5 separate regions of the Homo sapiens genome follow, and all the other regions are linked to region 4. The links come from fine-mapping of genetic effects on gene expression. A gene starts in region 4. Each other region holds a variant in brackets. All regions are shown on one strand. Distances are between the middles of the regions. Region 1 holds the start of LOC124904712 (a long non-coding RNA gene). Region 2 overlaps ACTN4 (actinin alpha 4). Region 3 overlaps ACTN4 (actinin alpha 4). Region 4 holds the start of CAPN12 (calpain 12). Region 5 holds the start of LGALS7B (galectin 7B).

Evidence for each region. PIP is the estimated chance that this variant, and not a neighbour inherited with it, causes the effect. A credible set is the group of variants that fine-mapping cannot tell apart.
Region 1: its variant is the best candidate, but not a certain one, in a credible set for the expression of CAPN12 in whole blood (INTERVAL, PIP 0.60).
Region 2: its variant is the best candidate, but not a certain one, in a credible set for the expression of CAPN12 in whole blood (TOPMed, PIP 0.53).
Region 3: its variant is the best candidate, but not a certain one, in a credible set for the expression of CAPN12 in prefrontal cortex (BrainSeq, PIP 0.57).
Region 5: its variant is the best candidate, but not a certain one, in a credible set for the expression of CAPN12 in sun-exposed skin (GTEx, PIP 0.70).

What each region holds. Positions count from the first base shown.
Region 1 is chr19:38,818,347-38,823,546 of GRCh38, reverse strand. The region is part of intron 3 of ECH1 (enoyl-CoA hydratase 1); the gene reads left to right. LOC124904712 (a long non-coding RNA gene) reads right to left here and starts at 707. Exons shown (of 2, transcript XR_007067252.1): 1 at 150-707. The variant C/T (reference allele first, on the strand shown) is at 2,686.
Region 2 is chr19:38,652,096-38,657,095 of GRCh38, reverse strand. The region is part of intron 1 of ACTN4 (actinin alpha 4); the gene reads right to left. Among named protein-coding and RNA genes, the nearest start is that of ACTN4, 6.9 kb to the right of the region's middle. RefSeq lists a silencer at 1,308-1,357 and enhancers at 1,477-2,345, 2,346-3,214, 3,753-4,361, 4,362-4,971. The variant T/C (reference allele first, on the strand shown) is at 1,884.
Region 3 is chr19:38,669,792-38,674,791 of GRCh38, reverse strand. The region is part of intron 1 of ACTN4 (actinin alpha 4); the gene reads right to left. Among named protein-coding and RNA genes, the nearest start is that of ACTN4, 25 kb to the right of the region's middle. RefSeq lists enhancers at 1-76, 107-176, 347-396. The variant A/G (reference allele first, on the strand shown) is at 2,427.
Region 4 is chr19:38,742,359-38,747,443 of GRCh38, reverse strand. CAPN12 (calpain 12) reads left to right here and starts at 2,970. Exons shown (of 21, transcript NM_144691.4): 1 at 2,970-3,515; 2 at 4,342-4,411; 3 at 4,916-5,034. The coding sequence starts at 3,279.
Region 5 is chr19:38,786,311-38,791,510 of GRCh38, reverse strand. It overlaps LGALS7B (galectin 7B), which reads right to left and starts at 2,311. Exons shown (of 4, transcript NM_001042507.4): 1 at 2,279-2,311; 2 at 1,807-1,895; 3 at 621-822. The coding sequence starts at 2,284. The variant G/A (reference allele first, on the strand shown) is at 2,350.

The sequences.
Region 1 (5,200 bases), 76 kb before region 4:
CCTTTCCCAGAAAGCCTGACACCCATGTCTTTAGTCCAGCGGCCATGCTAGTCACTTTTAACTGGCAGACAGGTGCCTGGTATTTAGCCCCCAAATTCTAAGGAAAAATAGGACAGAATAGCAAGTGAAAGGGGTCCAGTGGTACTCACTGCTTGGCGATAGGTGATAGTCTCACCGCTCAGCGATAGGCAGTGGTCTCACCGCTTGGCGATAGGTAATAGTCCCATCTGGGTCACCAAAATGTATCCGGAATTGGTGGGTTCTTGGTCTCACTGACTTCAAGAATGAAGCCGCAGAATCTCGTGGTGAGTGTTACAGTTCTTAAAGGCGGCATGTCCGCAGTTTGTTCCTTCTGATGTGTTCGGAGTTTGTTCCTTCTGATGTTTGGGTGTGTTCAGAGTTTCTTCCTTCTGGTGGGTTCGTGGTCTCGCTGGCTTCAGGAATGAAGCTGCAGACCTTCGCAGTGAGTGTTATAGCTCTTAAGGCGGTGCGTCCAGAGTGGTTCGTTCCTCCCGTCCGGAGTTGTTCATTCCTCCCAGTGGGTTCGTGGTCTTGCTGGCCTCTGGAGAGAAGTTGCAGACCTTCGCGGTGAGTGTTATGGCTCATAAAGGCAGTGTGGACCCAAAGAGTGAGCAGCAGCAAGATTTATTGCAAAGAGCAAAAGAACAGAGCTTCCATAGCATGGAAGGGGACGTGAGTGGGTTGCCACTGCTGGCTCGGACAGCCTGCTTTTATTCCCTTATCTGTCCCCACCCACATCCTGCTGGTTGGTCCGTTTTACAGAGAGCTGATTGGTCTGTTTTACAGAGAGCTGATTGGTCCATTTTGACAGGGTGCTGACTGGTGCGTTTACAATCCCTGAGCTAGACACAAAACTTCTCCAAGTCCCCACTAGATTAGCTAGACACAGAGCACTGATTGGTGCATTTACAAACCTTGAGCTAGACACAGGGTGCTGATTGGTGTATTTACAAACCTTGAGCTAGACACACAGTGCTGATTGGTGTATTTACAATCCCTTAGCTAGACATAAAGATTCTCCAAGTCCCCACCAGATTAGCTAGATACAGAGTGCTGATTGGTGCATTTACAAACCTTGAGCTAGACATAGGGTGCTGATTGGTGCATTTACAAACCTTGAGCTAGACACAGAGTGCTGATTGGTTGTTTACAATCCCTTAGCTAGACATAAAGAGTCTCCAAGTCCCCACCAGATTAGCTAGATACAGAGTGCTGATTGGTGCATTTACAAACCTTGAGCTAGACACAGGGTGCTGATTGGTGCATTTACAAACCTTGAGCTAGACACAGAGTGCTGATTGGTTGTTTACAATCCCTTAGCTAGACATAAAGTTTCTCCAAGTCCCCACCAGATGAGCTAGACACAGAGCATTGATTGGTGCATTTACAAACCTTGAGCTAGACACAGGGTGCTGATTGGTGCATTTACAAACCTTGAGCTAGAAACAGAGTGCTGATTGGTGTATTTACAATCCCTTAGCTAGACATAAACGTTCTCCAAGTCCCCACCAGATTAGCTAGATACAGAGTGCTGATTGGTGCATTTACAGTCCCTCAGCTAGACATAAATGTTCTCCAAATCCCCACTAGACTCAGGAGCTCAGCTGGCTTCACCCAGTGGATCCTGCACCAGGGCCGCAGGCGGAGCACTCCTCAGCCCTTGGGCAGTTGATGGGACCAGGCGCCGCCGAGCAGGGGGTGGCGCTCCTCGGGGAGGCTCGGGCTGTGCAGGAGCCCACGGCGGCGGGGGGAGGCTCGGGCATGGCAGGCTGCAGGTCCCAAGCCCTGCCCCACAGGGAGGCAGCTGAGGCCCGGCAAGTATTCGAGTGCAGCACCAGCGGGCCGGCACTGCTGGGGGACCCGGTGTACCCTCCGCAGCTGCTGGCCCAGGTGCTAAGCCCCTCACTGCTCAGGGCAGGTGGCGCCGGCCCACCACTCCGAGTGCGGGGTCGCCGAGCTCACACCCACCCGGAACTTGCGCTGGCCGGAGAGCACTGCGTGCAGCCTGGGTTCCCGCCCGCGCCTCTCCCTCCACACCTCCCTGCAAGCAGAGGGAGCCGGCTCCGATCTTGGCCAGCCCAGAGAGGGGCTCCCATAGTGCAGCAGCAGGCTGAAGGGCTCCTCAAGCATGGCCAGAGTGGGCTCTGAGGCCAGCGAGCAAGGGCTGCCAGCATGCTGTCACCTCTCACTTCCTTCTCTCTCTCTTTCTTTCATTTTTGAGACAGGGTCTCCCTCTGTCACCCAGGCTGGAATGCAGTGGAGCAATCTCAGCTCACTGCAGCCTCCACCTCCTGAGCTCAACCCCTCCCACCTCAGCCCCTACCACCTCCCCTCATCCTCCCACTTCAGCCCCTCAAGTAGCTGGGACCACAGGTGTGCACCACCATGCACAGCAAGTTTTTTCACTTTTTGTAGAGGCAGGGCTTGCTATGTTGCCCAGGCTGGTCTCGAACCCCTGATCTAAAGCGATCCTCCTGCCTCAGCCTCCCAAAGTGCTGGGATCACAGGCATGAGCCACCGCACCCAGCCTCCTGCTTTCTTTCTGCATCTCCCTCTGTTCCTCCTCTTGTTCATTTGTTCATTCATTTGACAAACATTCAGTGACACAGTCCAGTGCCAGAGCCCCCTCCTGGGTGCTGCAGATGTGGAAACGGGAAGCAGCCC[C/T]GATTCCTGACCCCTTGCTCTCATAGAGATCATGTCTGAGAACAGAAAAATGGGGCTTTTTTGTGGCTGTGCCGGGCCCAGGTCCTTCATCTTTCAGCTCCCAGCTGAATGTGGCCGTCTTATCTTATTTTCAGCAGCAAGACCCCGAAGGCCAGAAGGAAGAAACGGCAGGTCATGCAGTGACCCAGTGATAGAGTAGAACTACTAATTAGAGAAAGAAAAAGGTGGCCACAATTATGTAGCACTCATGGTGTGTGACGCCCCTTTCTAAGCACGTTAAACATATTAATTCTAATCACAGTCCACAAGACAGGTTCTGCTATAAGCCCCATTTAAAGGTGAAACAGATCCAGAGAGCAAGAAACTTACCCAATAATCACAGCTTGTAAGTGGCAGAGCTGGGATTTTGGAACTCATGCTGCCTGGCTATAGAGTCCTTGCTCTTAGCTGCTAAATGTCTGTCATCTGAGTAGCTGGCATGCTGGTTAAAAGTAAGGGGGATTGCCGGGCGCCGTGGCTCACACCTGTAATCCCAGCACTTTGGGAGGCTGAGGCAGGCGGATCACGAGGTCAGGAAATGGAGACTATCCTGGCTAACACAGTGAAACCCCGTCTCTACTAAAAATGTAAAAAATTAGCCGGGCATGGTGGCAGGCGCCTGTAGTCCCAGCTACTAGGGAGGCTGAGGCAGGAGAATGGCGTGAACCCAGGAGGCGGAGCTTGCAGTGAGCCGAGATCGCGCCACTACACGCCAGCCTGGGCGATAGAGTGAGACTACATCTCAAAAAAAAAAAAAAAAAAAAAAAAAGTAAGGGGGACTTTGGCCTCAGGCTGTGATCTGGATCCTATTTCCACTTGTCTTTTCACCTCTCTGTCCTGCCATTTTCTTTTCTTTTTATTTTTTATTTTTGAGCCAGGGTCTTGCTCTGTCGCCCAGGCTGGAGTGCAGTGGCGCGATCATAGCTGACCGCAGCCTGCAACTCCTGGGCTCAAACGATCCGCCCACCTCAGCCTCCGAAAGTGCTGGGATTACAGGTGACCATGCCCAGCCTCATGTGCAGCTAATTTTTTCATTGTTTGTAGAGAAGAGGTCTTGCAATGTTGCCCAGGCTGTTCTCAAAATCTTAGCCTCAAGCCATCCTCCTGCCTCTGCCTTCCAAAGTGCTGGGATTGCAGGTGTGAGCCACTACGCCCAGCCCCAAAATATACTTTTTTATTCATTTGTTTGCCTCCCCATGAGGACAGGGACTGTTGTCTGTATTGATCATTTATTGAGCAGCTCGTGTGCGCCAGGCCCTGTGCTAGGCCCAGGGGATGCAGCAGTGGACAGAAAGACAAAAACTCCTGTGTTCTCAGAGCTCACATTCTAGAAAGGGAGTCAGACCCTCAAGCAGATAAGGACCTAATTATAGGATAGCAGCTGTGCAGCCCGGAGGTAAGGCGGGGTCAGGATGCGGGGGATGGGGCCATCGTTGAGCCAGGTTGGCCAGGGAGGGCCTCTCTAGGAGGTGACCTTTGAGCTATAGCTGAAGGAAGTGAAGGAGTCAGTCTGTGGCTGTTGAAGAGGGAGGGATGGTTGTCAGCCCAAAGGTCCTTGGCTCCCTCCCTCTCCTCTGGGTCTTTACTCAAGGTCACCTTCTCAATGAGAAGATTCTGTACCACTGCACAGCCCTCAGGCAGTGATCTGGATCCTATTTCCACTTGTCTTTTCACCTCTCTGTCCTGCCATTTTCTTTTCTTTTTATTTTTTATTTTTGAGCCAGGGTCTTGCTCTGTCGCCCAGGCTGGAGTGCAGTGGTGCGATCATAGCTGACCGCAGCCTCCAACTCCTGGGCTCAAATGCACGTGCCCGCACACACACACACACACACACACACACACACAGAGTTGGAGACCAGTGTGCCCAAAGTAACAGGTTGGGAACAGTGCACACACACACACACACACACACACACACACAGAGTTGGAGGCCAGTGTGCCCAAAGTAACAGGTTGGGAACAGTGTTCATGCAGGGTAGTCATGACAAGGACGTTCCATTTTGTTCTAAGAGCCACAGGTGGGAAAAAGAGGGTCTGGGCCGGGCACGGTGGCTCACGCCTGTAATCCCAGCACTTTGGGAGGCCGAGGTGGGTGGATCACAAGGTCAGGAGTTTGAGACTAGCCTGGCCAACATGGCAAAACCCCGTCTCTACTAAAAATACAAAAATTAGCCGGGCATGGTGGTGGGCGCCTGTAATCCCAGCTACTTGGGAGGCTGAGGTAGGAGAATCACTTGAACCGGGAGGCGGAGGTTGCATTGAGCCGAGATCCTGCCACTGCACTCCAGCCTGGGCGACAAGAGCGAGACTCTGTCTGAAATAAAAAAAATAAAATAAAAAAAAAGAGGATCTGACCCAAGAAGGTGTCCACTGGCTTCCCCTGGCTGCCTGTAGGGAATAGACTGGGGACACAGGTGGAAACAGGGAGAGCAGGGTGGGCTCATGGAGAACAACTGATGCAGGAAAGGTCAGATTC
Region 2 (5,000 bases), 90 kb after region 4:
GCTGAGGCTGAAAGATCCCTTGAGCCCAAGAGTTCAAGGCTGCAGTGAGTTATGATTAGGCCACTGCACTCCAGCCTGGGTGACAGTGAAACCCTGTCTCTAAAAAATCAAAACAGAACAAAAACCAAATGTGTTCCCTTCAGACATGGAAAACACAAAGTGGGGTATACTGCCTGCCTTCTGTGCTTCCTCTGATCCACCTAGACTGTGGCTTCCACCCACTCTCAAAAGACATCAGGGAGGGGAAAAGATGAAAAGAAAAACCCACTAGAAAGCTAGTGACAGACATCACTCAGCCCCACACCTTTGGGGGGGAAACTTTAAAAAACATAAAACAAACCACAAAGTCTTCTTTATTCCTGCCTGAAGCTGAAGACACAAATGCTATTGTATTGCTGGTGTTCTAGCATCCCATTCAATCATTGCAACACCATCCACGATATTTCCCAAGATGACTTCATTGTGTTCTGCAGGGTAGTAACTGCCGCTTCCAACTACTTCTGCCCCATGTGGATAGTTCCACTGGAAGACAAAGAATCTGTTCTGCTCTGATATTTGGAAGAAAAACATTTAAATAAGCCTTGTTAACTCAGCAGGAGGGCACTGCTTTCCTTTCAAAATGTAGGGTTCAAATCCGATGAAGGGGTGGCAGTGTGCTTTCTTCGTGGGAGGGGCCCAACTCTAAGAAGAAAACTGGAGCCTTAAGAGAAAAAGTTGGCTGGGCGTGGTGACTCACACCTGTAATCCCAAGACTTTGGGAGGCTGAGACCAGACTGGGCAACACAGCAAAACCCCATCTCTACAAAAACACAAAAATCAGTCAGGCGTGGTGGTGTGCACCTCTAGTCCCAGCTACTTGGGAAGCTGAGGTGGGGGGATGGCTTGAGCCCGAGGTCAAAGCTTCAGTGAGCCAAGATTGTTCCACTGCACTCCAGCCTTGGTAAAAAGAGTGACACCCTGTCTCAAAAAAAAGGAACAAAGGCAAGAAAAACGAAGAAAGAAAAAAGTTGTGTGAGGAACAAATGATAAACCCACATTTCTTACAGCTAGCCCTCTGTATCCATGGGTTCTCTATCTGTGAATTCAACCAACAATGGATCGAAAATACTGGAAGAAAAAAAATGAATGGTTGCATCTGCACTGAACATGTACATATTTTTGTCATTATTTCCTAAACAGCACAGTGTAACAACCATTTACGTAGCATTTAGCATTAGGTTATAAGTAATCTAGAGATGATTTAAAGTATTCAGGAGGATGTGCATAGTTAAAATGCAAATTACACATCGTTTTATCTTACATAAGGAACTTGAGCATCTGTGGATTTTGGTATATAAGGGGGTTCCTGGAACCAATCCCCCACAGATACTGAGAAATGACTGTATTTTCAATGTGTCCTGGTTTCTTACAAAACCTCAAAAGCACTAACACTTGAAACTGAAGATGAATCAAGCATCATCCAGTCATGAGCCATATGTTCGAGTCTAGTATGGCCGGATGACACACAGAGCCAAGAGGGGCTGTGTGCTCCTGGACAAGGTGCTGCCCTGCCCACCTCGACCAGATGAGATCAAGTTTTTTTCCCAAGTGTGACATACACACATGGAAAATTTTAAGGGTTATCTACACCTTACATTACACCCTGAATCACATTGAGAAAGTTATTTCCTTTGATTCTCTTGTAAACCTGATGACTTCAAAGAGAAAGTCTCTGCTTGGTGCTGGTGGGTCTTTAACACCTCACCAACACTTGCCAATCCCTTTCTAACAAAGGGAGCAGGCCTCAAGCCTGGGGGGCCTTCAGCCCGAGTGGTAACCACCTGGAAACAACACTGTTTTGTTTTCAATGTGTTTATTTTTGCAGTTTCCTTCTATTATATTTA[T/C]GGCCAGGGGAGCTGGGTTTTCCAGTTGCCATACTCTTGTCAGTTTTCCTTTCAAAACTTAATTTAAAATGCAAACTGATTCAAAGGAAATTATTATGTGTCTATAAAAGTGGTTATGGAAAATCACAAATGGCTGCAGTTTACGAAGGAAGGGGATAAGCACAGGGGGACTGCTCTGGCTGGGGAGCCTCACTCCTGGGGGAGGGGGAGAGAATGGAACTCATCCCAGGAAGGAAGGAGCCAGCACAACAACAGGTGGCAAACAGCAAATCCCACGTAAACTCACTCCACTCGCCTTCAGATAACACTTGCATAAATCACAACCAAGAAAAAGGCCACTGACCTCTTCCAGAGTAAACGCTGTTCAAACTAAAGGGAAGGCAGGCAAATTACACCAATCAGCTTCTAAGACTTTCCACGGACATTCCAAGTTAATGCCTCTCTTGTTTATGGAGAAAGGGGAGGGGAGGGACGTGAAAAAACACAACCAAAAAAAGGCACAACACCAAGACAAATGCCTCGGGGATTTTTATAATCCCAGGGAAACTGCTACTTGGATAAAACTTCCCATGCACTGATGTAAGGATGCTCTTGCCAGTTAAATATATGCAAAGATTTAACTCCTTTTCTTTTTCTTTTTTTTTTTTTTTTGAGACGGAGCCTTACTCTGTCGTCCAGGCTGGAGTGCAGTGGCGTGATCTCAGCTGACTGCAACCTCCACCTTCCAGGTTTGAGTGATTATCCTGCCTCAGCCTCCCCAGTAGCTGGGATTACAGGGGTGCACCACCGTGCCCGGCTAATTTTTTGCATTTTAGTAGAGATGGGGTTTCACCATGTTCGCCAGGCTGGTCTTGAAGTCCTGACCTCACGTGATCCACCTACCTCGACCTCCCAAAGTGCTGGGATTACAGGCGTGAGCCACCACACCCGGCGATTTCACTTTCTGGAGGAGGCGGGATCCTTCCCTGGGTCAGGTGGTTAATTTCTCCCCTTCATAAGATCCTTCTTTAAACAGAGGCTGGAATTTAAAATGATTCTGTTTCTCTTTGATTCATTGAAAGTTACACTCCTTGATGCCTGGGATACCGAGTAAAATGTAACTCATAGACCTTCTTGAAGAAAAGTTAAGTGATACCTGGGCCACTTTCAGACACTTTATAACAAATTCTGGCGCCTAGGCTGCCAACACTGTAAAACTAAGTTTCCTTGTAACTTGCTTTGATGTTTCCAAGTTTAAACCCATTCTAAAGAAGACTAATGAGCTCTCAAACTACCCAGTGATAGAAAGACTTCTTTCAAATCTCCACGGATGACAGTATTTGTATCTGCTCAAGTAGAAGCTTCCGTCTCTCTTGTAACAGGTCAGTGCTTCAGTTACCACTGCCATTGAATTACCCACTTGCTATCACTTGCCTCTTATTTCCATAAAAAAAGAAACGGAGGAAAAAACTGTTTAAGTTTTACCTTGTTTAAAAGTAACACGAGTGCTTTTGTTATTCTGTAAACTAAATACATAAATGAAGGCAAAGGAAGGAAACTGAGGGAAGGGAACAAAATGTGAGTGATGAAAACACGGAGTTCATTAAATGAAGGAATAAAGATAAAGCCGGGGAAAACACTGCTCTAGGATATACTAAGGCAAGGGAAGAGATAAACATGTTGATATTTCAGCTATTCAGAAAACCTGAACGAGCAAGTGATACTAGAGCAAACAGCTGTTCACTAATTATATTTGCCCTTCCCTTCTGCCCTTCAAAAAAGTAAAAGCAGCAGCAAGGGAATCTTTTTTTTTTTTTTTTAAAGAACAACCCTAAGGTCTGGTCAAAGGCTTGTACAATTCCCAGCACAACATAAATCAGTGTAGCAAAAACGGAAAGTGTTCATCTCAACGGTTTCAAATTCCTTGGGCCTTCCCAAATCAATTCTTTTTTGGCTCCATTCTGTTTGCTAACTAGCACTGGCAGATAACTTGTGCTACACTCAGTTCACTCTGAAAAAGGGCGCTGTCTGGCCAAAGTCTGCCATGACTGGAGCATATGTTGAAACAGCAGAACTCCCCACCCAGGAGGCTTAGACTTAAAACTTGTCCCCGCTCCCCTCTGTCATCTGATTTTTTTTTTTTTTTTTGAGATGGAGTCTTGTTCTGTCACTCAGGCTGGAGTGCAGTAGCGCGATCTTGGCTCACTGCAACCTCCACCTCTCAGGTTCAAGCGATTCTCCTGCCTCAGCCTCCCAAGTAGCTGGGATTACAGGCACCTGCCACCATGCCCAGTTAATTTTTGTATTATTGGTAGAGACGGGGTTTCACCATGTTGGCCAGGCTGGTCTCGAACTCCTGACCTCAGGTGATCTGCCCACCTCAGCCTCCCAAAGTGCTGGGATTACAGGCGCGAGCCACTGCGCCCGGCCATAAGACCACATTTTAACTGACCTCCCTGACTGTGTCAGAGCTTAATAGCACCAGCACTACTTGGATATTCACACACCACCCTGCTTCCTCCAACACTTTCCACTGAACTTTCCCCCCCACAAGGCAGCCCACTTGGGGCCAAGCAGTCGGCTGCCGTTAAATGGAGGCTTTTAGCACCAGTTCCAACTGGAGGGTGAGTCAGCTCCCTGCCACCAAAGTAGCCTCCCTGTTGGTCTTAGAAGCCGGAACCAGGGAGGGTGTTTCAAAAGGCAGAGGGCAATCCTGGGCCCACACCCTGGATTGTTTAGGATTAGGTGAGTGGCAGGTGCCACTCCAGGGCACCAGCCAGATCTCAACTCTTAGCCAGGTGAGTGTAAGTGACCCTGCAGTCCCAGGCCATCTTCCCATACCCCACCTTTTCTTCAGTCATTAGAAGAGTCAAGTTCTAAAATACATTCTGGAGAGGATGAGGGGAGAGAACAGAGTGCTAGCAGCTGAGTGGCCTCCCCTATCCCTCTTACAAGAGGGCAAACAGAGTATACTTGCCTCTCACACATATTTACACAGTCTTTTTTCTAGATAACAGTTGAGTTTGAGTTTGGTTCCTTTTTTTTTGTCAAGTGTGTTACTCAATTTTGAAAACTGTTAGTCCTAGCCAGATCCTAAGAGGCAAGCAATTAGAGTAATGGAACAAAGTAACAGATGGC
Region 3 (5,000 bases), 73 kb after region 4:
GAGTCTTAATACCAGGGACACGAAGTCAGAGGTAAAGAGAATCGATACTCGGCCCTAATGTTAGAGAAATAACCTAAAAAGGGAAGAGTCTGGTTGGATTCTCAGTTCTGTCTTTTACTGACTGAGGGGCCTGGGGCAAGTCACGTCACCTCTCTGAACTTTAGTTCTCTCATCTGTAAGGGTAGGGATAAAAATGCTGGGACTGACGTAAAGTGAAGCTGAAGAAAGAGACGGAATGGTGCTATCTGCTTTAATGAGCTGTGTTAGGGATCTGTCCCAGCATCGAAACAGATATGCTCCACGGCATTCCACTCGGCTGGGAAGTTCTTTTTTCACTGTTGTACACCCAGTACCTAAAACAGTGACTAGCACGCAATAAATATTTGTAGAATCAAAGCTCTCATTGCAGCTAGAATAAAATCCAAGATCCTCGCTACCGGCACATTCTGGCTGCTGTCACCCCTCTGACTTCAACTCACACTGCTCTCCCCACTGTCTTGGTCTCATTTTATTTCTCTCTTCCCACAACCCTGGGTCCTCCTGCCTAGAACAGTGTTCCCTTCTCTGAGGTTGGCTCTAACTCTCCCTCCAGGCCTCACTTCACTGTCATCATCTTGGAAAGTCTCCCCTGACAGCTCCCACACAATCTATTGCAAGTCCCCCACTGTCCCCTCTTAAAGGACTCTGGTCTTTTCCTTCATAAAAATAATCACACCGGGCGCAGTGGCTCACGCCTGTAATCCCAGCACTTTGGGAGGCCGAGGCGGGTAGATCACAAGGTCAGGAGTTCAAGACCAGCCTGGCCAAGATGGTGAAATCCCATCTCTACTAAAAATACAAAAATTAGCCGGACGTGGTGGCAGGCACCTGTAATCCCAGCTACTCAGGAGGCTGAGGCAGAGAATTGCTTGAACCTGGGAGGCAGAGGTTGCAGTGAGCTGAGATCACGCTACTGCACTCCAGCCTGGGTGATAGAGACTCCATCACAAAAAAAAAAAAAAAAAAAATTATACATATATAAATATATATATATAAAAATATATATAAATATATAAATATATATAAGTATATATAAATATATAAATATATAAATATATATAATATATATAAATATATAAATATATATAATATATATAAATATATAAATATATATAAATATATATGAATATATATAAATATAAATGAATATATATGAATATATATAAATATATATGAATATATATAAATATATATAAGTATATATAAATATATATAAGTATATATGAATATATATAAATATATATTCATATATATAAATATATATGAATATATATATAAATATATATAAATATATATGAATATATATATATAAAAAATAAAACCACAATTTGGAACACTCTATGTATGTCTTGGGTTTTCATTGTTGGTATTTTTTAATGCCTATTGTCCCCGACTAGGCTGTGTGCTCCATGAGGACAAGAAGAAGGACTATTCTGTTCACATCTCATTACTCAGCACCTTGTTTACGGCACATAGTGGGTATAAATAAATGCTCAATAAATGATGAATAGGCCGGGTGTGGTGGCTCATGCCTGTAATCCTAGCACTTTGGGAGGCTGAGGTGGGGGGATCACCTGAGGTCAGGGGCTTGAGACCAGCCTGGCCAACATGATAAAACCCTGTCTCTATTAAAAACACAAAAACTGGCCAGGCATGGTGGTGCATGCATGTAATCTCAGCTAATTGGGAAGCTGAGGCAGAAGAATCGCTTGAACCCAGGAGGCAGAGGTTGTAGTGAGCCAAGATTGTGCCACTGCACTCCAGCCTTGGAGACAGAGTGAGACTGTCTCCAAAAAAAAAAAAAAAAAAGAATGGATGGCCAACCCCATCATCTCCATCAATCATGCTGAGATGATCAATCACTTAAAAATGGTTACAGGGGCCGGGCATGGTGGCTCACGCCTGTAATCCCAACACTTTGGGAGGCCAAGGCAGGTGGATCACTTGAGTTCAGGAGTTTGAGACCAGCCTGACCAACATGGAGAAACCCCGTCTCTACTAAAAATACAAAATTAGCCGGGTGTGGTGGCACATGCCTGTTATCCCAGCTACTCAGGAGGCTGAGGCAGGAGAATTGCTTGAACCCGGGAGACAGAGGTTGCGGTGAGCCGAGATCGTGCCATTACACTCCAGCCTGGGCAACAAGAGCGAAACTCCATCTCAAAACAAACAAACAAACAAACAAAGAACATAGATCAAATAATAGAACCTTGGCAGGGTGTGGTAGCTCACACCTGTAATCCCAACACTTTGGGAAGCCAAGGCGAGTGGGTCACTTGAGGTCAGGAGTTCAAGACCAGCCTGGCCAACATGGAGAAACCACGTCTCTACTAAAAATACAAAAATTAGCCAGGTGTGGTGGCATGCATCTGTGGTCCCAGCTACTC[A/G]GGAGGCTGAGGCAGGAGAATTGCTTGAACCTGGGAGGTGGAGGTTGCAGTAAGCCGATATCACGCCACTGTACTCCAGCCTAGGCGACAGAGAAAGACTCCGTCTCAAAAAAAAAAAAAAAAAAAAGAACCACATGTAAGAAATACTGCTGTGTGGGCCATACGTCTGGCAGGAAAGCCCACTATGAGAACTCCCGCCATGTTCGTCCCTACCCTAATGTACCTTAGGTGGCACACCCAGGGAGAGCGAGAAACTCTCTCATCCTAATCGCTGTAGTATAGCAGAATAACATGACAGGCCAGCAGGACAATGAAGTCTACGCTGCCCAGCTCTTTTTCTGGGTGGAAAGCCCTCTTTCCCTCACAGAATTTCCATCCATGGAGAGCAGTGAGCAATGCAAAGCATTACAACCATTTTTCTTCCAGCTATTTCTAGGCACACAAATAACATCTAAGGACTCAAGGCCAGCCTGAGAAACAATTGAGCCAGGAAATACTCAAGCCAGTGCAGAGGTAACAGAGCCTAAAAAAGTTAAAAGCAGAGGGCGATGCCTTCATGGCGAGCTTCCTGGCTTTTCCCAGACAGACTGCCTGCTCCAAATGCGAAGTTTGATAAGGACTGTGGGGCTAGTACTCCAATCACAGGGACTCAATTAGAGTTTAGGAAAAAATGGCCTGAAGTTTTCAGGGATAAGTGTCCAAATTTGTTTCCAAGTCAACAAATTCATTGCACATCTACTATATCCCATTTTCCTGAAATCCATCAACTCTCCTATCAATAAGAAACGCTGCATTCAGGCTTTTCCATTTACAAAGATCTCAGGATGGATCTCTGTCACAAAACCTGGACTGCCAGTATCTTCCCAAAGTCAAATTTAAGAGATCAATCCTAAAGAAACTATTTCTGTCCATCTGCCACATGGGTACAAATTCTGAACTGGCAGTTCATTTATTAATAGAAAGCTGGCATTGTTCACCAGGTTATTGTGCGTGCAGAATGGCTGCCTCTGTAGAAAAGTGTTGCTTTGGGCTACCCAAAACAAACAAACAAAAAAACTTTCCACTATTTTGGTTCACAAAAACCTGAAGCCTAAAAATATGCAATATGGTGGGAGGAATTTTGAGGAGTCAACTCTTAATTATCTATGGTGATGGGAAAGGGGGAGGAGTCCGGAGGCTGGAAAACCACAGCTAAAGCAAACCCTTTTTACTACCATCCACTTCAACCACCTTTTATCAGAGCTGTCACTAAGGGGCAAAGTACAATTTTCTCGCTCCTAGTGAGAGGATTAAGCAGCAGCAATTCAGACAAGAGGAAAGGGGAGACTAGAGGAGAGGCAGAGACAGGGTCAAGACCATGCAAGGTTAGGGGTCACAAATGGGTAGCTCTTCACACCCAATAGGCCCTATTTTGTATGGCCTGCAGGTTTTTTTTTTTTTTTTTAAGTTGGAGTATTGCTCTGTCACCAGGCTGGAGTGCAATGGCGACATCTCAGCTCACTGCAACCTCCGACGCCCTGGTTCAAGGGATTCTCCTGCCTCAGCCTCCCGAGTAGCTGGGATTACAAGCACAAGCCACCACGCTCAGCTAATTTTTGTATTTTTAGTAGAGATGGGGTTTCACCATGTTGGCCAGGATGGTCTCAATCTCCTGACCTCGTGATCCACCCTCCTCAGCCTCCCAAAGTGCTGGGATTACAGGCGTGAGCCACTGTACCCGGCCAGGTTTTTAAGTTGAATGAAATGCCCCATAAAACTCTCCATTTCCAGCTTCGTGAAGTCCCAGGTCCCCATTCCCACCTGGCCACCATCAGCTAGAGCTCTGCAGTGGCCACCCCAGTCCCCACCCAGGCTACTTCCCTCCATTTTGTCACCTCACCTACCATGTGATAATCCAAGACCACAGTCCCTCAGCCCCAGGAGAAGAGAACCAGGTGCACACTCACATCCATTCTCCTCACAAGGGTCCAAATGACAGGATCACCTGCTCTGAGCAACAAGATACAGGCCGGCCTATCCTTGCTGTTCCTGAAAGGGGGCTGCATGTGGAGCTGCCCTGGCTTTGCTTCCACCTTCCTGTGACCTCCACCCCACCATGCTCTTGCACTCCCACAGATGGCCTGAAATCCCAGGTGGAAGTGGAGGGTGTTACGTGATCCCCAACTCCCTTGAGTGGAAACACCAAGTTTCCTAGAGGACCTAGGAGATGTTCTTTCCAGCCACCCTATCTGAATGGTGGGGCTGGGAGGGGCATATGGAGGAGAAAGGGGTGGCTAGGAAAATGTTAGAAATACCAGATACACTGGCTCTGGGGACCCCTGAGGAACGACCCCCTTCAGCTGCCAACACTTTCCAATTGGCGCTAAGAGTGAACAGCTATTTCCACTAAAGATCAGAAAAGGACTGAAGTTTCCATACATTGAAGACTGAGCCTTGAGATTCTTGGCTGGACTGCAATTGCCTCTCCCTCCTTCCCCCAACGCTTGCTTCCAGCTACCCAAGGAGTCTTTTGCTTGTGGAGCTAGTGAGCCAGCATTCTGAGTGACATATTCCAAAGTGTCCCCAAATAACAAA
Region 4 (5,085 bases):
TGAACGCCAAGGCATGGTCAATGCCTCGTGCAGTGAGCAGCGACTCTGTGTCAGGCACTTCTCTGAACTCATCCCACGTACGAACTCATTCGCTTCCCACAGCAACCCTCCGAGGTACGCCCTATCATCATCCGCATTGCAGAGATGAGGAAACTGAAGCACAGAGAAGTTAAGTGATGTGCCCAAAGACACACAGGTGTAGGTGGCAGAGCTGGGATTGGACCCCAGGTGCTGTGGCTCCTAATCCCGGCAGGCTGGAAGCACTCCCATATGACTCCCGTGGGGCTGGGGTGGGCTTGGCAATCCTACACGAAGAAAACTTTTTTTTTTTTTTTTTTGAGATGGAGTCTCACTCTCTCACCCAGGCTGGAGTGCAGTGGCGTGATCTTGGCTCACTGCAACCTCCGCCTCCCAGGTTCAAGCGATTCTCCTGCCTCACCCTCCTGAGTAGCTGGGATTACAGGTGTGTACCACCATGCCCAGCTAATTTTTTTTTTTTTTTTTTTTTTTGAGACAGAGTCTTGCTCTGTCAACCAGGCTGGAGTGCAGTGGCGGCTCACTGCAAGCTTCGCCTCCTGGGTCCACGTCATTCTCCTGCCTCAGCCTCCCGAGTAGCTGGGACTACAGGTGGCCGCCACCATGCCTGGCTAATTTTTTGTATTTTTTGTAGTAGAGATGGGGTTTCACCGTGTTAGCCAGGATGGTCTTGATCTCCTGACCTCGTGATCTGCCTGCTTTGGCCTCCCAAAGTGCTGCTGGGATTACAGGCTTGAGCCACCGTGCCCGGCCTTTTTTTTTTTTTTTTTGAGATGGAGTTTTGCTCTCTTGCCGAGGCTGGAGTGCAGTGGTGCAGTCTTGGCTCACTGAAACCTCCACCTCTCGGGTTCAAGCGATTCTCCTACCTCAGCCTCCTGAGTAGCTGGGATTACAGGTGCGTGCCACCACACCCAGCTAATTTTTTTGTATTTTTTAGTAGAGATGGGGTTTCACCATGTTGGCCAGGCTGGTCTGGAACTCCTGACCCGCCCGTCTCGGCCTCCCAAAGTGCTGGGATTACAGGCGTAGTAAACTACCGCGTCCAGCCTAATTTTTGTATTTTTAATAGAGATGGTGTTTCACCATGTTGGCCAGGCTGGTCTTGAACTCCTGGCCTCAAGTGTTCTGCCCACCTCAGCCTCCCAAAGTGCTGGGATTACGGGCATGAGCCACCATGCCCGGCCCTGTTTTGGGGGGTTTTTTGAGATGCAGTCTTGCCCTGTTGCCCAGGCTGGAGTGCAGTGGCACAATCTCGGCTCACTGCAACCTCCGCCTCCCAGATTCAAGCGGTTCTCCTGCCTCAGCCTTCTGAGTAGCTGGGATTACAGGTGCCCGCAACTATGTCCGGCTAATTTTTGTATTTTAGTAGAGACGGAGTTTCACTACATTGGCCTGGCTGGTCTCGAACTCCTGACCTCAGGTGATCTGCCTGCCTCGGCCTCCCAAAGTGCTGGGATTACAGGCATGAGCCACCACGCCCAGCCAGAAAGCCTGTTTTGTAACCCACTTTTGGTAGCCGTGTACGTGGGTGGCTTGGACAATATTTGTGGGTCCACTTGGAGGGAAGAAGGCCAAAAGGCTTGAGGGACATCTGAGTGGCGTGGAGGTGACAAGGCTCTGGGAGGGCAGCAGACACCCTCAACGAGGGTGGAAGGTCTGCTGGGACCAGCACTGCTGAGGCTCTGGCATCTCCGTACCTGTTTCTCCCATTTCCTCCAATGGCTCCAGAGTCCTTTGGGGGAAATACTGCTCCATCCAGACTCTGAGTGGCGTGGGCCAGGGCAGGGCATCATGGTCACCAGATGGCTCCCAGCACAGGAGAGGTACAGAGCCATCCCTCCAGGGTCAGCCTCCCTGGGCAAGCAGGCTGAGTCTACCTTGTCCGGGAGGGGAGGAGGCGCATCCTGAGGGCTTAGGGGGCGTGAGCGGAGGGGAGCTCAGGGTCCCTCGGTGGATGATGGAGGAGCCACATATGGGTTACAGGGACAGACAGAAAGATGGAGAGGAAGAGACAGGGAGGCAGACACAAGGTACACTGACAGGGTCTGAAGGAGGAGGGGCTGGGGGCCTGGACTCCTGGGTCTGACAGGTACAGAGAGGAACAGACACACGCTGAAAGAGACACAAAGAGAGAGGGGACAGGCATAGTGATTCACGCCTGTAATCCCAACACTTTGGGAGGCCAAGCGGGGAGGATCACTTGAGCCCAGGAGTTCGAGACCAGTCTGGGCAACAAAGTGAGATCCCCGCCCCATCTCTACAAAAAAAAAAAAAAAAAAAAAAAGAGGGTGGGGTGGGGAGAGGGGTGGAGTTGGGGAAATACAGAGACACAAATATTGCCAGAAACAAAAAACAAGAAAGGGCCAGGCACAGTAGCTCACATCTGTAATCCCAGCTCTCTGGGAGGCTGCTGAAGCAGGAGGATCACTTGAGGCCAGCAGTTCAAGACCAGCCTGGGGAACATATGGGACCGCCCCCCGCCACCCCTCTGTCTCTACTTTAAAAAAAATTTTTTTTAATTAACAAAACCTGACCAGGCACAGTGGCTCACGTCTGTAATCCCAGCACTTTGGGAGGCCAAGGTGGGCGGATTGCTTGAGGCCAGGAGTTCAAGACCAGCCTGGTCAACATGGTAAAATCCCTTCTCTAACAAAAAATACAAAAATTAGCTGGGCATGGTGACACGAGCCTGTAATCCCAGCTACTTGGGAGGCTGAGGCAGGAGAATCACTTGAACCTAGAAGGCGGAGGTTGCAGTGAGCTGAGATCGTGCCACTGCACTCCAGAAACTGATGGAGAAGAAACATGAAGGCGGGGAGAGAGAAACTGTCAGAGGGAGGGGGAGAGAGGCAGTCTGAGAGATAGAGACACCGAGGTAAACCCGCCTCCTTCCCCAGCCCCACAGGCATAAGTAGGCAGAAGCTCACCCCCACACTGACCTCCTTCTTGGTGCTCTGACAGCGGCAGCCGGTCCTCCCTCAGCTCTGCCCGCCTTCTCTCCTGCTGCTGGCCAAGCCCATTAAGCTGCTACCTTGGCCACAACTGAAGGCCCCACGCCCTGGGAAGAAAGCTACTGAAGAGGCGTCCCTGCTCCCCAGCACCCCAAACCATCAATTAATATTAACGAGGGAAGGCTCCTCATTGCCTAAAGACCCCACTGGGGCTCCAATGGAAGAGAGGCCCCGCCCCCGTGACTCAGGAGGTTAAAGGGCCTGGTGCCGGCTTGTGAGGCCAGTGTCCAGATGGCATCCAGCAGTGGGAGGGTCACCATCCAGCTCGTGGATGAGGAGGCTGGGGTCGGAGCCGGGCGCCTGCAGCTTTTTCGGGGCCAGAGCTATGAGGCAATTCGGGCAGCCTGCCTGGATTCGGGGATCCTGTTCCGCGACCCTTACTTCCCTGCTGGCCCTGATGCCCTTGGCTATGACCAGCTGGGGCCGGACTCGGAGAAGGCCAAAGGCGTGAAATGGATGAGGCCCCATGTAAAGTGTGGCTGGGGTCTGGGCTCTGGGGTCTGAGGGAGGAGGGGCTGGAGGCATGGACTCCTGGGTCTGAGGAAGGAAGGCTGGGGGCCTGGACTCCCTGGTCTGAGGGAGGAGGGGCTCGAGACCTGGACTCTTAGGTCTGAGGGAGGAGGGGCTGGGCCTGGACTCCTGGGTCTGAGGGAGGAAGGGCTGGGCCTGGACTCTTGGGTCTGAGGGAGGAGGGGCTGGGGACCTGGACTCCTGGGTCTGAGGGAGGAGGGGGCTTGGACCTGGACTTCTGGATCTGAGGGAGGAGAGGCCAAGGCCTGGACACCTGGGTCTGAGGGAAGAGGGGGCTGGGGACCTGGACTCCGGGGTCTGAGGGAGGAGGGGCTGGACCTGGACTCCTGGGTCTGAGGGAGGAGGGGCTGGGGACCTGGATTCTTGGGTCTGAGGGAGGAGGGGCTCGGGACCTGGACTCCTGGGTCTGAGGGAGGAGGGGCTGGGCCTGGACTCCTGGGTCTGAGGGAGGAGGGGCTCGGGACCTGGACTCCTGGGTCTGAGGGAGGAGGGGCTGGGCCTGGACTCCTGGGTCTGAGGGAGGAGGGGCTCGGGACATGGACTCCTGGGTCTGAGGGAGGAGGGGCTGGGCCTGGACTCCCGGGTCTGAGGGAGGAGGGGGCTACCATGGGACTGGCTCAGCACAACTTCTGGAGACCCAGGGAAGCCATGCTCCTGCCCACAGGCTTCCAGGCCTTTCATGGGCTTGGAGGCCCTCACTCCTCTGGATGAGACCTTTCCTCGCTTTCTCAGGCTGAGGCCTGGAATCCCCCACCACCCACAGGAGTTCTGTGCTGAGCCGAAGTTCATCTGTGAAGACATGAGCCGCACAGACGTGTGTCAGGGGAGCCTGGGTGAGACCCTGAACCCACCTGGAGTCCTCAGATCCAGCTAGTTTCAGCTGAGATCCTGACAGCTCCATCCCTTTGTCCACCCACTCCCGGCCCCTGGATCCCTCCTCAGTCTCTTCTCTCCCTAGGCCTCTCTCTCCCTCCTCCCTCCTTCCTTCCTTCCTTTTTTTTTTTTTTTTTTTTTTGAGATGGGGTCTCACTCTGTCACCCATTCTGGAATACAGTGGCACCATCATAGCTCACTGCAGCCTTAACCTCCTGGACTCAAGCAATCTTCCTGCCTCAGCCTCCCAAGTAGCTGGGACTACAGGTGCATGCCACCATGCCCAGCTAATTTTTAAATTTTCTTGTAGTGGAGTCTTGCCATGTTGGCCAGGCTGGTCTTGAACTCCTAGGCTCACGTGATCTTTCTGCCTTGGCCTCCCAAAGTGCTGGGATTAGAGGCATGAGCCACCGCACCAGGCCTCCCTCCTTCCATCCTCACCTAATCCTGGCCTCTCCTCCCAGGTAACTGCTGGTTCCTTGCAGCTGCCGCCTCCCTTACTCTGTATCCCCGGCTCCTGCGCCGGGTGGTCCCTCCTGGACAGGATTTCCAGCATGGCTACGCAGGCGTCTTCCACTTCCAGGTACAGCTCAGTTCCTCTGCCCATGCCTCCGTTTCCCCCATGGTGACTTGG
Region 5 (5,200 bases), 44 kb before region 4:
CCCTCTGGGCCTCAGTTTCCTCACTGGGAAAATGGGGCTATTGTTCATTCTAACTCTTGCGTGAGGATCAAACGAGTTGACTGTGTGGCACAGTAAAAAGCGGCTTTTTTAGTGCTGGTAATGGATATTCTCATTTCAGCGACCATTACCCGCTATTAAAGCGCAGAGGAGGGAGGTGAATTCGCGTAAGCTGTGGGTGGTGGAGGATCTGCCGCCACTCCCACCCGCCAATCCTTGCTAGGACGAGTTCCTGGGCGCTGTTTCCAACCCATCCCTCCCCATGCCTCAAACCCCGGACCTCAGGAAGGAATGAACTGGGAGTAGGGTCTGGGATGGCGAGTCTGGGCCACGCCTTCCCGCTAGGACGCCCACCCCTTGGACACTTGGCTGGTGCTCGCCTCGTCCTGACCCTGCTGTCTCTCTGTCCCTCGGACCCAAGTGGGAGTTGTTTAGGCGAGAGAGAGGGTCGAAGGACACCCTTCTCCGCCTTGGCCACGACTTCCCTACCCCCCTCACCCCGCCCCGAACCTCCCTGCCTTCCACCAATAGCCTGGCTTTGCCCAACCCTCTGCTCCAGGGACCTAAGTCTTGGCGTCCACGCCCCTGTCGCAGAGACGCACCTTGAAGCCGTCGTCTGACGCGATGATGAGCACCTCGAAGGGCTGCCCGCGCTGGAAAGGAACGCCCGGCCCGCGCTCCTCGCGGCCCCAGGAGCCTTGCTCCTTGCTGTTGAAGACCACCTCCGACGTGTCCAGCCGGGGGTTGAAATGCAGGGCGGCATCGGAGCCCTGCTCCTCCCCGCACAGCAGGTTTACATGGAACCTGGAAGAGGGGGATGGTGGCCGTCAGGGCTCAGAAACCACCCAGACCAAGAAATGTTGAGGGTGAGGAATACCGATGTCTACAATTTACTTTGAATGAATAAGTAAATGAAATGTTGGCTGGGTGCAGTGGCTCACCCTGTAATCCCAGCACTCTGGGAGGTGGAGAAGGGAGGATCGCTTGGGCCCGGAAGTTAAAGACCAGCCTGGGCAACATAGCGAGACCCCACCTTACAAAAAAACGAAAGAACAAACAAAACATAAACCGCCCAGACCAAAGTGAAGGTCTTATGGGCTGGCACTCCCCATTCCCAGAGTACCCCCAAATTAACAGGGACCTGAAGACAGGCACACACCGCAGAAGGAGAGGTGGGCGACTAATGACCAGGGAGCTTAGATTCCCAAGGCAGCCAAAATATCATGAGGCCCTTGGCAGAAACCTACCCAGACCAAACTCACTACGCTTAGGGCAGGGTGCCCTCATTTCCAAAGAGCCTGGGAGCTGCCCAGGAGGTCTGGGTGATAGCCAGGGTGCTCCTGATGCTCAGGGAACCCTCAGCTTCTACAGGACAAAGAATAATACCAGGAACCCCAGTATTTCCAGGGTACCTCAGAATCCAGAAGGCCCGAAGTTCCTTAGCCAGGAAGTCAAAGGATGGCTTGGCAAGGACTCCCAGGGTCCAGGGTGTCTCCAGGACTTGGAGTATTTCCAGAGTTCCCTGGGACTCAGACATGGAAGTCATAGGACTATATCTAGGAACCCTGAGATTACCCAGGGACCTCAAATGCTTAGGGAAACTTAGGGACCCCAGCCACAAAGGCACGGGGGCAAATACGAATACATCAGATTTGAGGTCAGAAATGGCCTCGGACTCCTAGCCTGGTGGATACAGGTGGCCTCGGGCCCCTACTTCTGGACTGCAAAAATTGGGAGTCAGCTGATCCTGAGACCTGTACCCTTTACCCCTAGGGCCTGGGGCCTCACCTGCTGGCATTGGGAGGAACCAAGCCGCGAATTCTCAGCACCGTGCCAGGGCGGATGCCCTCGGGCAGTGAGGACTTGTGGGGGACGTTCTGCAAGAGTGGGGTGCAGGGGCCACTGTGAGCCGGTGAGACCGAAGGAGGGAGGCAGAAGGTGGGTCACCCCTCAGAGGAGCCGACCAGGGCTGAGACTGGCAGAAATCAGTGGAAGAGGAAAGGGTGGCGGAGAGGCAGGAAAGAGACCAGAAACAGACAGGGAAACAGATGGGGAGAGCAACAAAGACAAACAGAAAGATCCTCAAAGAGGGCCCCAGAGGAAGCCACAAAGAGGTAGAGGGGACAGTCGGGATGGGGGTTACCCGGAGGCCACAGCCCAGGCCAGTCCGTGGCACACTCACTGCCCACTTGCTCCTTTGAAAGAGGAGCCCCCAGCCCCCTCCCTGCTTGGCCCCGCCCCGGGCCCCTGGAGCACTCACGGACATGGCTGGGACCGGGTTGGGCAGCCGTGGTGGTGGGGCCTGCTGGGGACCTTAAATAAAAGCAGGGC[G/A]GGGCTGGCCCTGATGACTCACCCCACCCCTTCCCACCCACCACCCACACCTGGCACGGACCCTGGCCCTGGGGCAAGCCTGGCGAAGTGGGAGTGGCGCCTCTTCTTGGGGGCCCTGATCCCCCCATCACCCAGAGCCCGGGTGCACTGCCCCTCTCCTAGGAGCTGATAATAAGAGCCACCGCCCCTCCACCCCTGTCTTCCCACTGCCTGGCACACAGGAGAGTCTCTCATGCTCATTTTATCCACAGACATGTTGGGTCCTGAGAAGCCAAGCCCAGCGGGAACTCTAGACCCTTCTCTCCAGCTGAGAACCTCCTGCCTAGACTGGAAATGTCTGCGCTGAAATCCCTGCTTCTAAGTCTCCAGTGGAACAGCAGCCACAACAACGACGATAGTGCCAGACAGGGGGACTTCACAGGGTCGGAGGGCGGCCTGGTTGGCTCAGTGCTGCACCCCTGGGTCCTGGAGTGTGCCGGGTTCATGGGAAGTCCTCAGTCAGGAGGGGTGAAAGGAGGGGATCCACTAGGACTACGCTTGTCATTTCCCAGGCCCTTGGGCTGCCCAGGATATGCAGGAAATCACTGATTGGGACCCCACCATTCCAACAGAGAGAAGCATGGGTCACCCCCATTGTACAGAGAAGGAGGCTGAGGCTGGGATGGGAAGTGATTTTCCACAAGCCGGGCAGGACCCATTGCCCCAACCTCTGCCTTTCCTCACCTCTGGGCGTGCCTCTCCTGTGGGTTCTGTCTCTGGGGCTGGCTGTCTGGCTCTGTTTGTCTCTGTCTATAACTGTCTACCGCGTATTCCTGTCCCACTTCTCTCCTTCAAGTCTCTCTTGTTCCTCCTTCCAGGACTGTTACCATCTTCCCACCAATTTTGCAGGTCAGGATGAGGTGGGTTTTAGGGTGGTGGGTGGCCTAGCATTCCATCACCACCTAGATCAAAAGCAGAGCAAGGTGGGGACCCTCCCGCCAGCCCCAATATAGCCCGCTTGGGCCCAAGACTCTAGAAGAGAATCCAGGGTTGGGGAAGTAGACTGGGGGAGGCGGGGGGGGGGGGGGGGGCGGGCAGGACTGAAATCTGTTTCTGAAAGGCAGGGATGGTGTGGGAGCTGAACAGAAACCACTCCTGGCTGGGCATGGTAGCTCACGCCTGTAATCCCAGCACTTTGGGAGGCCAAGGTAGGTGGATCACTTGAGGTCAGGAGTTCAAGACCAGCCTGGCCAACATGGTGAAACCCCTTCTCTATAGAAAATACAAAAAATTGGCCAGGTGTGGTGGTGGACACCTGTAATCCCAGCTACCTGGGAGGCTGAGGCAGGAGAATTGCTTGAGCTGGGGAGGCGGACGTTGTAGTGAGCCGAGATCACACCACTGCACTGCAGCCTGGGCGACAGAGCTAGACTCTGTCTCAAAAAATAAAAATAAAGCCTGTAATCCCAGCACTTTGGGAGGCCGACGCGGGTGGATCACGAGGTCAGGAGATCGAGACCATACTGGCTAACACGGTGAAACCCCGTCTCTACTAAAAATACAAAACAAAATTAGCCGGGCATGGTGGCGGGCACCTGTAGTCCCAGCTACTCGGGAGGCTGAGGCAGGAGAATGGCATGAACCCGGGAGGCAGAGCTTGCAGTGAGCCGAGATCGCGCCACTGCACTCCAGCCTGGGCAACAGAGCAAGACTCCATCTCAAAAATAAATAAACAAACAAACAAATAAATAAATAAAAATAAACCACTCCTAGCAATGCAGCAGCCCTCCTGGACCTTTTCCACTCCCCACCCAACTCCTGCACTCCTGCCCCACCCAGCAGGCTGCTGAGAGGCCTGGGCAGAGGCAGGCTGGCAGTGGAAAGTTTGGGTGGAGACACCAGACCCAGAACCATCCTCCACCCTCTTTGTCCCAGGCCCCCAGCCTCTTGCCCCCTCCCCACACACTCCAAGGCACCAAGGTGGGGGACCAGTTCCTAGGGACGTGAGCTCAGAGAGGGAGGCTTGCAGCTGCATTTCAGTGGGAGCTGCAAGCACCCCCATTCTGCAGAAGACAAAACTGAGGCCTAGACAGGGACAGCTTCTCAGCCAAGGAAGCGGCCAGGCCCTGGGCTCCACAGGGGTGTCTGTGCCAAGGACATGTCATGGGCACGGACAGAGAGGACAGCAGGGTGTCCGGTGATCACACCACCAGCGCAGCTCAGTTAGTTCCCGAGAATGTTCCCTTGAATGGTGAACTCCATCATTCTAACATTATTGACCATTCTAAAGAACACACTCCTCACATTACTGACGCCTCATGCTGTGTACCGTGTTTCCCAGGAACTCAACTTTTTAGTGATCGCTTCACTGTGGCTGGATGTAACTTCACATGCAGCCAACATGCTGCAAGTCCCAACGTGCCTTTGCTGACTGGCCAAAGCTTTCCATTCACTCTATTATTAGCCTGAAGTCCTGACTCCTTTCTGGTAACAGATCTGCATCCTTGATTGCATCCTTGATGGGTTTTTGTTGTTGTTGTTGTTGTTTGTTTGTTTGTTTTTGAGACAGAGTTTTGCTCTGTCACCCAGGCTGGAGTGCAGTGGCACGATCTCGACTCACTGCAACCTCTGCTTCCCAGGTTCAAGTGATTCTCCTGCCTCAGCCTCCTGAGTAGCTGGGATTACAAGCATGTGCCACCACTCATGGCTAATTTTTGTATTTTTAGTAGAGACAGGGTTTCACCATGTTGGCCAGGCTGGTCTTGAACTCCTGCCCTCAAGTGATCCACCCACCTCAGCCTCCCAAAATGCTGGGATTACAGGCATGAGCCACTGCATCCAGCCCTTGATGAGTTCTTATTCAATTGTGTTA